2 separate regions of the Homo sapiens genome follow, and region 2 is linked to region 1. The links come from fine-mapping of genetic effects on gene expression. A gene starts in region 1. The other region holds a variant in brackets. All regions are shown on one strand. Distances are from middle to middle. Region 1 holds the start of CD14 (CD14 molecule). Region 2 has its middle 31 kb from the start of CD14.

Evidence for each region.
Region 2: its variant is fine-mapped to the expression of CD14 in whole blood (INTERVAL, PIP above 0.99).

The regions. Positions count from the first base shown.
Region 1 is chr5:140,628,322-140,637,275 of GRCh38, reverse strand. CD14 (CD14 molecule) reads left to right here and starts at 4,101. Exons shown (of 2, transcript NM_000591.4): 1 at 4,101-4,207; 2 at 4,296-5,544. The coding sequence starts at 4,205. The coding sequence ends at 5,420. It also overlaps a transcript of TMCO6 not described here. RefSeq lists enhancers at 4,457-4,956, 5,169-5,228, 4,957-5,458.
Region 2 is chr5:140,597,563-140,606,516 of GRCh38, reverse strand. It overlaps a transcript of TMCO6 not described here. Among named protein-coding and RNA genes, the nearest start is that of CD14, 31 kb to the left of the region's middle. The variant G/C (reference allele first, on the strand shown) is at 5,278.

The sequences.
Region 1 (8,954 bases):
GAATTGTGGCCGACTTAGCCCTACATGGTCTAACCCCTGCATACCTCTCCAATCTGGACTCACCTCTTCTGGGACCTTCTCTTTGTCAACAAGCCCTGTTCTTTTTCTCCTCCACCCTACTCCCACTCTTGGGGGAGGCTCTCGCACAAGCTGTTTTCTCTGCCTGCATCCTTCCCTTTTCTTTCTACCAGCATCCTTCCCTCAACACCATTCTCAACATGTCAAGTCCAGTGTCACCTACTCAGAACCATTGTACCAATGACCCAGCTTCTTCACAACCCTTTTCACAGCTATCATTAAGTTATAGTGTAATTATTTGATGTTGTCTCCTCCCAGACCCCCTTGGCAGCTCCAGAAGATTAGGGTCCCGGTGGCACCTAAGAATTTTTACAGGAAACCTCTAATTTTTAAAAAGCCATATAACTTAGGCAAAGGTTCAATTAAGTACAAATCTAGGAAAAAGGTTATTCTTAAAACCAATTTCTTTCCCTTGAACTTAATTCTACCCCTTGGAGTTAATCAATGAAGTCTGCAATCTCTTCCACAAAACAGCATGTTAAAATATCTACAGGCCATCATTCCATCCTCCATATCTTCTCTCCCAGTATCCATCCAGCCCCTGGAGAGCCATTTACTGAGTACCTGCTGTGCACCATGCTCTGGCCAGGGATAGGGCCTGGATCTTGAGCCCTTCCTCATGCAACTGTCTGGCTTCTTTTTTTAATTTTTTAATTAAAAAAAATTTATTTTCTTATTTCCCCAAGAAAAACTTTTTTATTTTTATTTTATTTATTTATTTTTTTTTTTGAGCCAGGGTCTTGCTCGGTTGCCCACGCTGCAGTGCAGTAGTGCAATCATGGCTTATCACAGCCTGGAACTCAGCCTTAAATGATCCTTTCAGCTTGGCCTCCCAAAGTGCTAGAATTACTGGCATGAGCCACTGCACCTAACCCAGGCTAGCTTCTAAGACCCACACTTGGCCCAGCAAGGTGGCTCATGCCTATAATCCCAGCACTTTGGGAGATGGAGGCAGGTGGATCACCTGAGGTCAGGAGTTCGAGACCAGCATGACCAACATGGTGAAACCCCGTCTCTACTAAAAATGCAAAATTAACCAGGTGTGGTGGCACGTGCTTGTAATCCCAGCTACTCAGGAGACTGAGGCAGGAGACTCGCTTGAACCCAGGAGGTGGAGGTTGCGATGAGCCAAGATTGCATCATTGCACTCCAGCCTGGGCAACAAGAGTGAAACTCCATCTAAAACAACAACAATAACAACAACAACAAAACCCACATGTGCTCCAGGTGGGGAAGATGAAAAAAGTTCCCAGCCAAAAGCTATATTCTGCCCAGTGTCTGCTCAGACAGCTACAGCTGCCCAAATTGCCTTTCTGTATCTACCTGTCTAGCAACACTGTTAACCCTGTAAGAACCAGCCCCATGTCCTGTCTTGTACAGGGCTGGCTGTTCCTTTCTCCAGACCATGTTCCTCCCCTCCACCCCTCTCCCCCAACAACACAAGCCTTTGGTTTCTCTTCTTTTAAGAGCCCTCTGCACTATGGACGGAAGTTCTGGGTTCATGTTTGCTCTACCCACCTCCTGGAGCACTTCAGGGACTTGTCTTTGTCATGTCTGTGTCCCAGGGCTTTCTACCAACCCTAGTACTCGGTAGACAAATGATAGACATTTGTTGAATCAAGCTGTGAGTTGGAGATCTTTGCAGAACCATCACTGCCCCTCTTAACTTGGAACTCCCCACCCAGAGTGCCTCCCCTAAGATGATGAGGTGTCAGACTTCAGTGGCCTGAGTTCTCTGAAAGCAGAGACTCTGAGAAAGAAGACTAGTCATCAAGACCACACTAAAAAGATGTGTTTCTGTGCCAAAGACTTTACTCACAAACAGGTAATACTATCATCTCCATTTTACAGAAGGGAGGCCCAAGTCTCATAACCTCAGTCGTAAAGCTGGGATTCCAAGACTGGCTATCTGACTTTGAGTCAGATATAATCATATCTTGGTCCTCAGGGATATCACAGAGGCCTGGCATGGCACCAGGGCATGGCCCAGTGCATTGGGGTATGCCCAACAGGACCCGCAGGGGGCAGTGATGAGCCTTCTTGTTTGGATTGGGGACAAATCTGCAGCTACTTCTTTCTCAATTAAAGAGGAAGTGGGAATTTAAAAAAGACTTTCTGCCGGGCACGGTGGCTCATGCCTGTAATCCCAGCACTTTGGGAGGCCGAGGCAGGTGAATCACCTGAGGTCGGGAGTTCGAGACCAGCCTGACCAACATGGAGAAACCCCATCTCTACTAAAAATACAAAATTAGCCGGGTGTAGTGGCACATGCCTGTAATCCCAGCCGCTCGGGAAGCTGAGGCAGGAGAATTGCTGGAACCTGGGAGGCGGAGATTGCAGTGAGCTGAGATCGCGCCCAGCCTGGGCAACAAGAACAAAACTCCGTCTCAAATAAATAAATAAAAGTAAAAAAGACTTTCAGGCCGGGTGTGGTGGCTCTCGCCTGTAATCCCAGCACTTTGAGAGGCCAAGGCGGGCGGATCACCTGAGGTCAGGAGTGCCTGGTCAACATAGTGAAACTCTGTCTCTACTAAAACTACAAAAATTAGCCGGGCATGGTGGTGGGCTCCTGTAATCCCAGCTACTCAGGAATCTGAGGCAAGAGAATTGCTTGAACTTGGGAGGCGGAGGTTGCAGTGAGCCAAGATCACGCCACTGCACTCCAGCCTGGGCAACAGAGCCAAACTCAGTCTCAAAAAAAAAAAAAAAAAAAAAGACTTTCATATAGTTCTTTCCCCAGAGGTCTAGGGATGTGGACCTGTGAGGGCTGTTGTAAATGCGTAGCTCCTTATTCTCTGGGACATTTGTTGTTTTTTTGTTTTGTTTTGTTTGCTGTTTTTTTCATTTTGTTTTGTTTTCTGTTTTTGTCTGTTTTTTGCGAAACTGGTGAGTTACTAATTAATCCTCATTCAACATAGTCCCATCCCTTCCTTCCTAGGGCACAGAGATTGTACTGAGGGGAGGGCAGGAGAGAGCAACGTGCAAGTGGGAAAACTGATTCAAAATACCTTGCTTCACAATTTCAGGACAGAAAATGGATAGTGTAAGTGACCCAGAGACTTGGCCAATGTGTCTCTGTTAAATACATCCACTTTTAAGAAAGTTAGTACTGCCAGGCACAGTGGCTCACGCCTGTAATCCCAGCACTTTGGGAGGCCGAGGCGGGTGGATCACAAGGTCAGGAGTTCAAGACCAGCCTGGCCAAGATGATGAAAACCTGTCTCTACTAAAAAATACAAAAATTAGCTGGGTGTGGTGGTGGGCACTTGTAATCCCAGCTACTCGGGAGGCTGAGGCAGAGAATTGCTTGAACCCAGGAGGCGGAGGTTGCAGTGAGCCGAGATCATGGCACTCTACTCCAGCCTGAGCAACAGAGCAAGACTCTATCTCAAAAAAAAAAAAAAAAAAGAAAGAAAGTTATTACTTAATCAAAGGAGCAAGGAAAAAAAAAGGAAGGGGGAATTTTTCTTTAGACCAACTTCCTTTTCTTGAACCTAATTCTACCCCCCTTGGTGCCAACAGATGAGGTTCACAATCTCTTCCACAAAACATGCAGTTAAATATCTGAGGATATTCAGGGACTTGGATTTGGTGGCAGGAGATCAACATAAACCAAGACAAGGAAGAAGTCAAAGAAATGAATCAAGTAGATTCTCTGGGATATAAGGTAGGGGGATTGGGGGGTTGGATAGTGCAGAGTATGGTACTGGCCTAAGGCACTGAGGATCATCCTTTTCCCACACCCACCAGAGAAGGCTTAGGCTCCCGAGTCAACAGGGCATTCACCGCCTGGGGCGCCTGAGTCATCAGGACACTGCCAGGAGACACAGAACCCTAGATGCCCTGCAGAATCCTTCCTGTTACGGTCCCCCTCCCTGAAACATCCTTCATTGCAATATTTCCAGGAAAGGAAGGGGGCTGGCTCGGAGGAAGAGAGGTGGGGAGGTGATCAGGGTTCACAGAGGAGGGAACTGAATGACATCCCAGGATTACATAAACTGTCAGAGGCAGCCGAAGAGTTCACAAGTGTGAAGCCTGGAAGCCGGCGGGTGCCGCTGTGTAGGAAAGAAGCTAAAGCACTTCCAGAGCCTGTCCGGAGCTCAGAGGTTCGGAAGACTTATCGACCATGGTGAGTGTAGGGTCTTGGGGTCGAACGCGTGCCACTCGGGAGCCACAGGGGTTGGATGGGGCCTCCTAGACCTCTGCTCTCTCCCCAGGAGCGCGCGTCCTGCTTGTTGCTGCTGCTGCTGCCGCTGGTGCACGTCTCTGCGACCACGCCAGAACCTTGTGAGCTGGACGATGAAGATTTCCGCTGCGTCTGCAACTTCTCCGAACCTCAGCCCGACTGGTCCGAAGCCTTCCAGTGTGTGTCTGCAGTAGAGGTGGAGATCCATGCCGGCGGTCTCAACCTAGAGCCGTTTCTAAAGCGCGTCGATGCGGACGCCGACCCGCGGCAGTATGCTGACACGGTCAAGGCTCTCCGCGTGCGGCGGCTCACAGTGGGAGCCGCACAGGTTCCTGCTCAGCTACTGGTAGGCGCCCTGCGTGTGCTAGCGTACTCCCGCCTCAAGGAACTGACGCTCGAGGACCTAAAGATAACCGGCACCATGCCTCCGCTGCCTCTGGAAGCCACAGGACTTGCACTTTCCAGCTTGCGCCTACGCAACGTGTCGTGGGCGACAGGGCGTTCTTGGCTCGCCGAGCTGCAGCAGTGGCTCAAGCCAGGCCTCAAGGTACTGAGCATTGCCCAAGCACACTCGCCTGCCTTTTCCTGCGAACAGGTTCGCGCCTTCCCGGCCCTTACCAGCCTAGACCTGTCTGACAATCCTGGACTGGGCGAACGCGGACTGATGGCGGCTCTCTGTCCCCACAAGTTCCCGGCCATCCAGAATCTAGCGCTGCGCAACACAGGAATGGAGACGCCCACAGGCGTGTGCGCCGCACTGGCGGCGGCAGGTGTGCAGCCCCACAGCCTAGACCTCAGCCACAACTCGCTGCGCGCCACCGTAAACCCTAGCGCTCCGAGATGCATGTGGTCCAGCGCCCTGAACTCCCTCAATCTGTCGTTCGCTGGGCTGGAACAGGTGCCTAAAGGACTGCCAGCCAAGCTCAGAGTGCTCGATCTCAGCTGCAACAGACTGAACAGGGCGCCGCAGCCTGACGAGCTGCCCGAGGTGGATAACCTGACACTGGACGGGAATCCCTTCCTGGTCCCTGGAACTGCCCTCCCCCACGAGGGCTCAATGAACTCCGGCGTGGTCCCAGCCTGTGCACGTTCGACCCTGTCGGTGGGGGTGTCGGGAACCCTGGTGCTGCTCCAAGGGGCCCGGGGCTTTGCCTAAGATCCAAGACAGAATAATGAATGGACTCAAACTGCCTTGGCTTCAGGGGAGTCCCGTCAGGACGTTGAGGACTTTTCGACCAATTCAACCCTTTGCCCCACCTTTATTAAAATCTTAAACAACGGGTCCGTGTCATTCATTTAACAGACCTTTATTGGATGTCTGCTATGTGCTGGGCACAGTGCTGGATGGGGAATTCATCATACTTAGGCTTTCTTCATCCTAACTCCCTAAGAAACCCTATCTGTCCTCCTCAAGAAAAGAACTGCGGGGATAGAAGGAGCCAGGAAAGGACTCCTGGCTAGGGCTGCATGGGAGAAACAATGAGTGTGCAGTCAGGGCTTTCTGAGCAGATTATTGGCATCTGGATTAAAAGGTATTTGCATGATATTTGGAAGATACAAAATATTTCCTCTCCTATGCACTTCCCAAGAGCCAGCTGCTCCCTTTCAAAGGTAATAAAACCCACAGCCATTTGCTTATTTCCTTATTCTTTCTCTCTCTCACACACACACACACTCACACACCCTCCCTCTCCCTCTCTGTCTGTCTCCCTTACCACTCAAGGAAGAGGGACAGCCTCCTATCCTGCACAAGCTCTGAGTTTCATAATATTAGGGTTCCTCTCTTGTAAAACCTCTCTTCACCCGGAGGCTTTCACTGTGTCACTCCCCGACATAATGGGAAATTTGGGCCTAGGGAACTGACGCAAGATACAGTCGGTCTCTGAATTAGAGATCCTGTGTTCTGTTAGAACACATATGCAGATAACCTTTTCAGGCTGACTGATTGGCAAATAGGAAAGCATCTCAGACTCTTCAAAACTTCAGAATAAACAGGATTTGTCCTCTAGTCCACATTAGCTCAGAGACCTACAGCATCAGCCATCAAGAGGTGCTGTTTCTTCTGAGCCCCTTCTTCATTTCAATGAGGAGGCAGCCACATCCATCAGAGAGCTAGATGCCTGCCTCACAGGGAGCATGGGAGAAAGGTGGGAGGAGGCATATAGGCCCAGCACCTGCCTCTGGCCAATGTCCAGAGCCACACAGATAGGAATAGGGAATGGAAATTAACATTGATAAGAGAGTTACAGACATTACCAGAACCAGACTCAAAATATGTCAGAAAACAGTTAAATTAGCTGGACACTCACTGGAATGTCCCCAAGGGGCCTTCAACCAGCCAGTTGAGAGATTTCTAGTATCAGAGAATTAATCATCTCAAGGCAGTTTTTTTCTTCCCTTGAATAGCTCTGATCACACTTCATCAAATGGTTACAGAACCACATTTCACCTCAGGCCTTGTGCTAAAGCCTGAAATACAAAGATGAATCAGAAACATCCATGCCCTTAGGGAATTCCAATCCAGTGGGGGTCGGGGGAACACATAAAAGATAGTTTTTTATGTGTGAGAAATAGCTGTGAGAATATATATAAATTTCTGTTGGTTAAGCCACCAGTCTATGGTATTTTATTACGGTAGCCTGAGCTGACTAAGGCAGTAGTGGTGATGTAACATATCTGATTGCAAAAAAAAAAATTTTTTTTAAAGAGTAATATATCTGGGCCAGGTGTGGTGGCTCATGCCTATAATCCCAGCACTTTGGGAGGCTGAGGTGGGCGGATCACGAGGTCAAGAGATCGAGTCCACCCTGGCTAACATGATGAAACCCTGTCTCTACTAAAAATACAAAAATTAGCCGGGTGTGGTGGCATGTGTCTGTAATCCCAGCTACTCAGGAGGCTGAGGCAGGAGAATTGCTCACTAGAACCTGGGAGGCAGAGGTTGCAGTGAGCCAAGATCACGCCACTGCACTCCAGCCTGAGCGAAAGAGTGAGACTCCGTCTCAAAAAAAAAAGGGAGCAGATATTGTTGAGGATTGATATGTTATACAGGTTGACTATCCTTTTTTTTTTTTTTTTGAGGCAGAGTTTCACTCTTGTTGCCCAGGCTGGAGTGCAATGGCGCAATCTCAGCTCACTGCAACCTCCACCTCCCAGGTTCAAGCAAATCTCCTGCCTCAGCCTCCCAAGTAGCTGGGATTATAGGCATGCACCACCACACCTGGCTAATTTTGTATTTTTCGTAGAGACAGGGTTTCTCCGTGTTGGTCAGGCTGGTCTTGAACACCCAACCTCAGGTGATCTGCCTGCCTCGGGCTCCCAAAGTGCTGGGATTGCAGGCATGAGCCACCACACCCAGCCAGGTTGACTATCCTTTATCCAAAATGCTCCAGACCAGAAGTTTTGGATTTTTTCAGATTTTGGAATATTTGCGTATATATAATGAGATAGATTTGGATGGGACCCAAGTCTGAATACAAAATTCATTTATGTTTCATATACACTTTAGATAATAGCCTGAAGATAACTTTATACAATATTTTTGTCATGATTCCCTAAACAATATAGTATAACAACTATTTACATAGCATTTACATTGTATTAGGAATTATAAGTAATCTAGAGATGATTTAAAGCATGTGGGAGATGTATGTAGGTTATGTGCAAATACTGCAACATTTTATTTATTTATTATTATTATTTTTTTTAGTTTTTTGGGTTTTGTTTGTTTTGTTTTGTTTTTTGAGACAGAGTCTCTCTCTGTCACCTAGGCTGGAGTGCAGTGGTTTGATCTCAGCTCACTGCAACTTCTGCATCTGGGGTTCAAGTGATGCTCCTGCCTCAGCCTTCTGAGTAGCTGGGATTACAGGCATGCACTACCACACCCTGCTAATTTTTGTATTTTTAGTAGAGACAGGGTTTCACCATGTTGGCCAGGCTAGTTGTGAATTCCTGACCTCAGGTAATCCACCTGCCTCTGCCTCCCAAAGTGCTGGGATTACAGGCATAAGCCACTGCACCCAACCTAAAGTTTTAACTGTTTGGATTGTAACCCATCACATATCCAGGATATGAATCATCCCTTTGTACAGTGTATCTACACTGTAGGCACTACTAGCTCGTTAGTAACTTAGGAGCTGTCTGGGTTGTCAGATCAACAGTTACCATATAGCAGTGCCTGTGTTCAGTAACCCTTATTTTACTTAATAATGGACCCCCAGCACAAGAATAGTGATGCCCACAATTCAGATATGCCAAGAAAAGCCATAAAATGGCTGGGCATGGTGGCTCATGCCTGTAATCTCAGCACTTTGGAAGGCCGAGGTGGGTGGCTCACTGGAGGTCTCCAGACTTCAAGACCAGCCTGGCCAACATGGTGAAACCTGTCTCTACTGCAAATACAAAAATTAGCCAGATGTGGTGGTGTGCTCCTGTAATCCCAGCTATTTGGGAGGCTGAGGCAGGAGAATCACTTGAACCTGGGAGGTAGAGGTTGCAGTGAGCTGAGATCTCACCACTACACTCTAGCCTGGGTGACAGAGTGAGACTCTGTCTCAAAAAAAAAAGAAAAGAAAAGAAAAGCCGTAAAGTGCATCTGTCAGAGGCATTCAAATCAGAGCAACTCCATCTTGAACAGGGGCTGGATAAAATGAGACTGAGACCTGCTGGGCCGCAATTTCAGGAGGTTAGG
Region 2 (8,954 bases), 31 kb after region 1:
ATTAGAGCATAGATAAACAAAATAAGGAATGGAAAAAATAGAAAATCGGTAAAACCAAGAGTTGGTTCTTTTAAAAGATCAACAAAATTGACAAACCTTTAGTCTGAGAAAAAAAAGAAAGTACAAATAACTAAAATCAGAAATGAAAGTACCAGCCTGGGCAACATAGACAGACCCCATCTCTACAATTTTTTTGTTTATTTAGCCAGGCCTGGTGGCACACATCTGTGGTCCTAACTACTTGGGAGGCTAAGGCAGGAGGAGTGCTTGAGCCCAGGAGTTCAAGGCCGCACACCACTGCACTCCAGCCTGGGTGACAGAATGAGACCCTGGAAAAAAAAAAAAGAGGAAAGAAAGAGAGAGGGAGGAAGGAAGGAAGGAAGGGGAAAAGGAAAAGGAAAGGAAAGGGAAGGAAAAGAAGGGGGGGAAGGGGGAGGGAGGGAGGGAAGGAAGAAGGAAGGTTAATTAAAGTGGAACATTACTACTGACCTTACAGAAATTAAAACGATTGAAAGAAAATATTTTGAACACGATATGCCAACAAATTAGGTAATCTAGATGAAATGGACAAATTCCTAGGACACACTTATTGCCAAAACTGCCTCAACAACATATTTATAACAAGAGATTGAATCAGTAACCAAAAATCTCACAACAAAAAAAAGTTCAAGACCAGATAGCTTCACTGGTGAATTCTACCAAATATTAAAAAGACTTAATGCCAATCTTACTTAAACTCTTTCAAAAAACAGAAAAGGAGGAAACATCTTCTTTCTTTGTGTGTGTGTGTGTGTGTGTGTGTGTGTGTGTGTGTGTGTGTGTGTTTTGTTTTTTTTTGAGACAGAGTCTCGCTCTGTAACCCAGGCTGGAGTGCAACGACGAGATCTCAGCTCACTGCAACCTCTGCCTCCTGGATGCAAGCGATTCTCCTGCCTCAGCCTCCCAAGTAGCTGGGATTACAGGCACCCACCACCATGCCCAGCTAATTTTTGTATTTTTAGTAGAAATGGGGTTTCACTGTGTTGGTCAGGCTGGTCTCGAACTCCTGACCTCAGGTGATGCACCCGCCTCAGCCTCCCAAAGCACTAGGATTACAGGCGTGAACCACCACACCTGGCCTAAAGATGCCACTTTTACCACTTATATTTACTACCGTACCAGAAGTTTTAGCCAGAGAAACTAGGCAAGAAAAATAAATAAATAAAGGCATCCAATTTGGAAAGGAAGAAGTAAAATTGTATTTGCATATGATATGATTCTATAAATAGAAAGTCTCATAGAATTCACAAAAAAACTATTGGGGATAATAAATTAAGCAGTTTCAGACTACAAGATCAACACACAAAAATTAGTTGTTTCTATGCAATAGCAATTTAAAATCCAGAAAGGAAATTAAGAGAATAATTTCATTTACATGTTTTCAAAAAGAATAAAATTCCTTGGAATACAATTACCAAAGAGGTTAAAACCTTATAAAATGAAAACTAGAAAACATTGCTGAAATAAATTAAAGAAGACCTAAATAAATGGAAAGACATCCCTTCAATGTTTATGCATTGGAAGACTTAATATTGACACAGAACAACTGTATAGGATTAGAGCCTGGAAATAACCCAAACATCTATAACCAACTGATTTTTGATAATGAAGCCAAGATTATTCAATGGAAAAAAGAAATCTCTTCAAAAATAATGCTGAGAAAACTGGGTAGCTAATATGCAAAAAAAAAAAAAAAAGAGAAATGACACTAGACCATTACCTCTCTCCATATACAAAAATTAACTCAAAATAGATTAACAACTTAAATAACAGAACTAAAGCTATGAAACTGTTAGAAGAAAACCTAGGGATTAATCTTCATGACCTCTGATTTGGCAATGAATTCTTAGATGTGACACCAAAAGCATGAGCAACAAAAAAAAGTGATAAATTGGACTTCATAGAGATTAAAAACTTTGGTGCATCAAAGGACACTATCAAGAAAGTGAAAAGACAGCCTTTGAATAGGAGAAAATTATGAAAATTATATATCTGATAAGGGTCTAGTATGCAGTATATATAAAGAACTTTTACAACTCAACAACAACAAAGACAATCCAATTTTATTTTTTATTTATTTTTTTGAGACAGAATCTCACTGTGTTGCCCAGTCTGGAGTGCAGTGGGATGATCACAGCTCACTGCAGCCTCTACCTCCTGGGCTCAAGCAATTCTCCTGCCTCAGCCTCCTGAGTGCTGTTACTACAGGAGCACACTACCACACCCAGCTAATTGTTTTGATTTTTAGTAGAGACAAGGTGTAGCTATGTTGCCCAGGCTGGTCTCAATCCAGTTTTTAATAAGGCAAGCAACTTGAATGGCTATTTCTCCACATAGGCTATACAAATGGCTAACAAGCATATGAAAAGATGTTCAACATCATTGATCATAAAGGGAACGCAAATTAAAGGCACAATGAGATATCACTACACACTCACCATACTGCTATAATGATAAATTTTTTAAATAAAATAACAAGTGTTGGTGAGGATGTGGAAAAACAGGAACTCTCATACCTTGCTATTGGGAAAGTAAAATGGTGCAGCTACTCTGGAAACAGCTAGCAGTTCCTCAAAAAGTTAAACATATAATTACCATATGACCCATCAATTCTACTCCTTAGTATATACTCAAGAGAAATGAAAACATATATCTACACAGAAACTTGCACACAAATGTTTATAGCAGCAGTATTCATAATAACCGAATGGTGAAAATAACCCAAATGCTCATCAACAGATGATGGATAAATAAATTGTGATATGAACATTTAATGGAATATTATACAGCAAAAAAAAACCCCAAATATTGATACATGCCACAACTTGGATGAACTTTAAACTAATGCTAAGTAAAAGAAGTCAGACACTGGCCAGGCACAGTGGCTCACACTTGTGATCCCAGCACTTTCGGAGGCCGAGGCGGGCAGATCACCTGAGGTCAGGAGTTTGAGACCAACCTGGCCAACATGGTGTAATCCTGTTTCTACTAAAAATACAAAAATTAGCTGAGTGTGGTGACGAGCACCTGTAATCTCAGCTACTTGGAAGGCTGAGGCAGGAAAAGCGCTTGAACCTGGGAGGTGCAGGTTGCAGTGAGCCAAGATCACGTCACTGCACTCCAGCCTGGGCAATGGAGTGAAACTCTGCTTCAAAAATAAAATAAAATAAAATAAAATAATAAAATAAAATAAGCCAAACACTGAAAGTCACATGTTGTTATTGTTTGCCTTCTTTTATATAATATATCCAGAATAGGCAAATTCATAAAGACAGAAAACTGCTTAGTGGTCACCTGGGGAGGGGAGAGAGAGGAATGGGAAGTGATTACTTAATGGGTATGGCATGTGTTTTGGGCATGATGGAAAAGTTTTGAAACTAGAAAGAAGTGATGGTTGCACAACAGTGCGAATACACTAAATACCACTGAATCATACACTTTTTTTTTTTTGAGACAGAATTTCACTCTTGTTTCCCAGGCTGGAGTGCAGCGGCACTATCTCGGCTCACCCTGGCTAATTTTTGTATTATTAGTAGAGACGGGGTTTCACCATGTGGCCAGGCTAGTCTCAAACTCCTGACCTCAGGTGATCCGCCCACCTTGGCCTCCCAAAGTGCTGGGATTACAGGCGTGAGCCACCACGCATGGCCATTTTTCTTTTCTTTTTTCCTTTCCTTTTTTTTTGTGTGTGTGTGTTTGTGTGTGTGTGTGAGAGAGACAGAGTTTTGCTCTATGGCCAAGGCTGGAGTGCAGTGGCATGATGTTGGCTCACCGTAACCTCCACCTCCCAGGTTCAAGCGATTCTCCTGCCTCAGCCTCCCAAGTAGCTGGGATTATAGGTGTGTGCCACCACGCCTGGCTAATTTTTTGTATTTTTGTAGAGATGGGGTTTGGCTATGTTGGTTAGGCTGGTCTCAAACTCCTGACCTCAAGTGATCCACGTGCCTCAGCCTCTGAAAAGTGCTGGGATTACAGGTGTGAGCCACCACTCCCAGCCACACTTTAAAATGACTAATTATATGTAACATGAATTTCACCTCAATTAAGAAATTCAAAAAGACGAAATGAAACTGTAAACAGTTACAAACTGCTCTAAGTACTATAAGTGGGATGTGTAGGGCGGTGTTGAGGCCTAGCAAATGCCTGGCTCTGACTGGACAGCAGTGAGGTCATCACAGAGGTGACACTGGAGCTGGGTTTTGAGGGAGATGTAGGAATTCGGGAGATTGCAAGTGTAGGAAGTGAGAGAAAAGAGGTTCTTTTTTAAAAAGGAAGAGAAGGAACCATGCAGAGGGAACAGAATAGGCAAAGCCTTGGAGGTGTGAGTAAGCAATTCTCATACTGAGTACTAGAAAAGTTGGAGACCTAGTGTATATGGAGAATAGAAATAGTAGGAAAGGAAGGCAGAAGCCACATGATGAGGGGTTTGGCAGTCCATGTTGATGCCTTTGGACAAGGAATTAAGCAGGATTTATTTCTTGGGGGAACAGCATGGGCAACATCTTGTTGCCTAAATTAAACTTTCTATATGTTGACCATATTTTATTGTATTCGCTTAAAAATATTCATGAATATACTGCTTAGTATGTGCCAGGCACTGTCCTAAAGCTTATTATTAACTCACTTAATCTCATCAACAGTTGTTCTCAAAGTCTAGACTCCACTGGAATCTCCTAGAAGTCTTAAAACACAGAAACCAGAGTTTCTGATTCAACAGGTATGGTGACGCCTGAAATCTGCCTTTTAATTCAATTATCAGGAGATGCTGAGACTGCTGGCACAGGGAATACACTTTGAGAAACACTGCTTTACGTCATCCTTATAAGGAAGGGAGCATTATATTACCATAGTTCTGAGATTGTGTCACTGCACCCCAGCCTGGGTGACAGAACGAGACTCTGTCTCAAAAAAATAAATGGAATAAGGCTGACGTGAATGGGGTCAAAACAACGGTCTTAGAGCAGTACTCTGAGAGGTTGAGGTGGACCAAAGGGAGCCCCTGCTGTTGTCCCAACATGAAGGGCCCTGGACAAATATGATTTATCCAACCTTGTTTGGAGGAATTCAAGAAACCTTACCTTGAATCACCTGGGGCAATAGTCCCATAACCAAATCAGTATAAGGATTGATGACAAATGGGTCAGCTTCCTTTGGTTCACTACCACCACCACCCCATACCCCCACAGCCATTGCAGACCCAAGGCCTTATGCACATCAGTGAGAAAAACTGTCAGGGTG[G/C]AAAAGGGACATTTCTAGGACTCCTTAACATAGGAGCCACATACACTGTAGTCCCCTGCTAGTGAGCCCTCACTAAGACCACAATTAGAACAAAAGTGTATAGAAATCAAGGGTGGATGGGATTAAGGGATAAAAATAGAGTGTTTAGATGGGATTTATGTGAAGGGGTTGTAGCTCCTATACACGGATGTTTTAAGAGAATGAATATTATGTCTTAATGGGGCACACTTTCCCTACCTAGTATTTATAAAATGAAAATCTGTTGGTGAAGTCCTAGTGGAAGCTTCAGTCAGGGATGCAAGGGTTGATGAAACTAAAGTGACAAAAGTTTGGATTAAAATTCGTATGTTTGAACAGTTTGTATGTGTGAATAGCATCTCTTTTCGTTGAATGTAGTATGGGGATATTGTATCTGACCGTGGAACATTTCCCCTCCCTAGTATTATAAACAGAAGGCACATAAATTCACCCTTTGGGGCCAGGCCCACTGGTTCACACCTGTAATCCCAGCACTTTTGAGAGGCTGAGGCAGGTGGATCATGAGGTCAGGAGCTTGAGACCAGGCTGGCCAAAATGACGAAACCCTGTCTCTACTAAAAATACAAAAATTATCCGGGCACAGTGGCGGGTGCCTGTAACCCTGCTACTCAGGAGGCTGAGGCAGGAGAATCACTTGAACTCGGGAGGCGAAGGTTGCAGTGAGCCGAGATCGCGCCACTGTACTCCAGCCTGAGTGACAGAGCAAGACTCTGTCTCAAAAAAAAAAAAAACAAAACAAATTCACCCTATGGGTAATATTAATTGGATGTGCTAAAATGGGAACAAATAAGATGGCCCAAGTCACACTGATTGTTAATTTCAAACAGTATAAAATAGAAGCTGAAGTGCCAGTAGGGAAAATTCTCTGTACAATAGCCCTGTGTGAAGTATAGGCTGGAGCTTATGGCAAAAGTCTGTGAGTGCCACCCAGCAATAACTGCTGGGACTTTGGACCAGAGAATTCCCATTTGCAGGGAAATTACTTATTTCTTATCAGACATTAAGTAAAACTTCCACTATAACTGAAAGATATAAAATAATCTTAAACATAAAATACCCATAACATTTTGGATGATGTTGGAGAAACCATTCAATGGGGAGAGAAGTGCCTGGAAGAGCTCCATAACAAAATGGAAGTTGTTTCTGATGGAACATACCACTGGGGGAATGCCAGGAGATACCATATTTCCAAGCAGATAGACTTTTTCCCCTAGAATTGACTTTTGAACCACCTGAGGAGCTGCCAGATTTTATTTTATTTTATTTTATTTTATTTTATTTTATATTTTATTTGAGATGGAGCCTTGCTCTGTCACCCAGGCTGGAGTGCAGTGTTGCGATCTTGGCTCACTGCTCACTGTAACCTCCGCCTCCCAGGTTCCAGCGATTCTCCTGCCTCAGCCTCCCGACTAGCTGGGATTACAGGTGTGCACCACCATGCCCAGCTAATTTTTATATTTTTAGTAGAGATGGGGTTTCCCCATGTTGACCAGGTTGGTCTCAAACTCCTGACCTCAGGTGATCCGCCCTCTTCGGCCTCCCAAAGTGCTGGGATTATAGGCGTGAGCCACAGCACCTGGCTGGAGCTGTCAGATTCTACTGCTACCTGGAGAGTGTCCTATAAACAGCAAAGAGCTTCTTGGTTTATAATCGCAGTTCCAAGGTGAATGTGCAGCATCTTGTTTGGAAGGCTAAGAAGGTAAAAACAACTTACCTTATAGGCTATTGCATTCTGTTTGCCACTACATTTGGGTTTTTACTGATTCATGGGTGGTGCATACTGACGTGATCATATGGTCAGGCTGAAGAGCAATAGAAAACTGCCCTCTTAAAGGGATCCCCTAAGAAAATCACTATGGAAATTTGAGGGATAGATTAAAGTAGGACATATCAATGCCCAATAGAAGAATCACTTTCCTGGATTGGAAGGTGATTGGCACCAGTGAGTGAATTTCCCAGTGTGCTCACTTGAGGTGGCCACCTGGGTCCATGGAATGAGTGGACCTAAGAATACTGTGGCAATGTAGAGATCTAGACATATTCCTCTTGCACCCTTTGAAGCACAAAATGCCAACAAGAACTGTTTTGTCTGCCAGCAAGAGAGACAGAGAATGCAGGTGGCCCTGGGGCACATTCCCCCGTTGGAAGGCCTCACACATAGCTGGTAGATAGATTACATTGAACAAATGCTGGCAGCCCTGGGGGCTACAAATGGGGTCTGACAGGAATAGACACTTACTTTGGTTTTTTGGTTTTTTTGTTTTTGAGATGGAGTCTTGGTCTGTCACCCAGGCTGGAGTGCAGTGGTGTGATCTCCGCTCACTGCTACCTCCTCCTCCTGGGTTCAAGTGATTCTCCTGTCTCAGCCTCCCGAGTAGCTGGGATTACAGTCGCCTGCCACCACACCTGACTAATTCTTTTGTAGTTTTAATAGAGACTGGGTTTCACCATGTTGACCAGGCTGGTCTCAAAATTTGACCTCAGGTGATCCATCTGCCTTGGCCTCCCAAAGTGCTGGGATTACGGGCGTAAGCCACTGCACCCGGCCAGGAATAGACACTTACTTTGGACTGGGCTTTGCACACCTAGTGGTAGATACGAATGCTGAAAATACTATTAAATTATTGGAACAAAAGATACTGTACTAATTTGGACCACCAAGTTACATTTCTTCAAACCAAGAGTCACACTTTACAGCCCATGATGTCCAACAGTGGACAAAGAGATATCACATCAAACAGACATACCACGTTGCATTGTCATCCTCAGAGTAGCAGTTTAATAGGGAATTGGAATGAGCACTTGAAACATTCATTGTCTAAAATGAGGTGAGTGAGGGTGCAGTGGCTCATGCCTATAATCCCAGCACTTTGGGAGGACGAGGCGGGAGGATCACTTTAGCGCAAGAGTTCAAAGCTGCAGTGAGATATCATGCCACTGCACTCCAGCCTGGGCAACAAAACAAGAACCTGTCTCTAAAAAAAAAAAACCAAATAAAATAAGAAAATAAAATTTAAAAATCAAGTAAAATGGGGGAGGGGATAAAGTTATGAAGCACTTGTTTAAATGTTTTCATGAGGGTATGCTCACATGCACCATGAGGGGGCCAAGGGAGAATCCCCATTGGAGAGATTCCTCCATTTTTCTAGGAAAATCTAGGGGAGAGGGGTTGAGGGAGGGTGTTGGTATGACTATATGATTCTTGCCCACATCACCTCAACTTTCTTTTTTGCCATCTGATGCAGAGGTTCCAGGACTAGAGATACATCTGCAGGTGCCAGAAGCATAGATAATTCCTAGGCAAGACATTGTAACTATACCTTTAAATCTTTATTTCAGCATTTCTAAGGACCCTATAGGTTAAGTTGTGCCCTCAACCCATCTGGCAAAATTTGAGTTGACAGTAAATGCTGCTGTATCATCCAGTGGCTAAGATAGTCCATTAGTCCTGTAGCTATATAGCCCTAATCTATATAAATTGGAGTGGACTGAAGGGGAGGCACTTGTTAAACTACTATTGTTGCCAGCAATCTGGACTAGCACAGTGGCCTCTCCTAATGTCCCTTCCAAAGGTAGAAAAGTTTGGGTATAAATGAGAGAATGAAGAATAATAGCTGAGGGTATGGAATGAATAACCC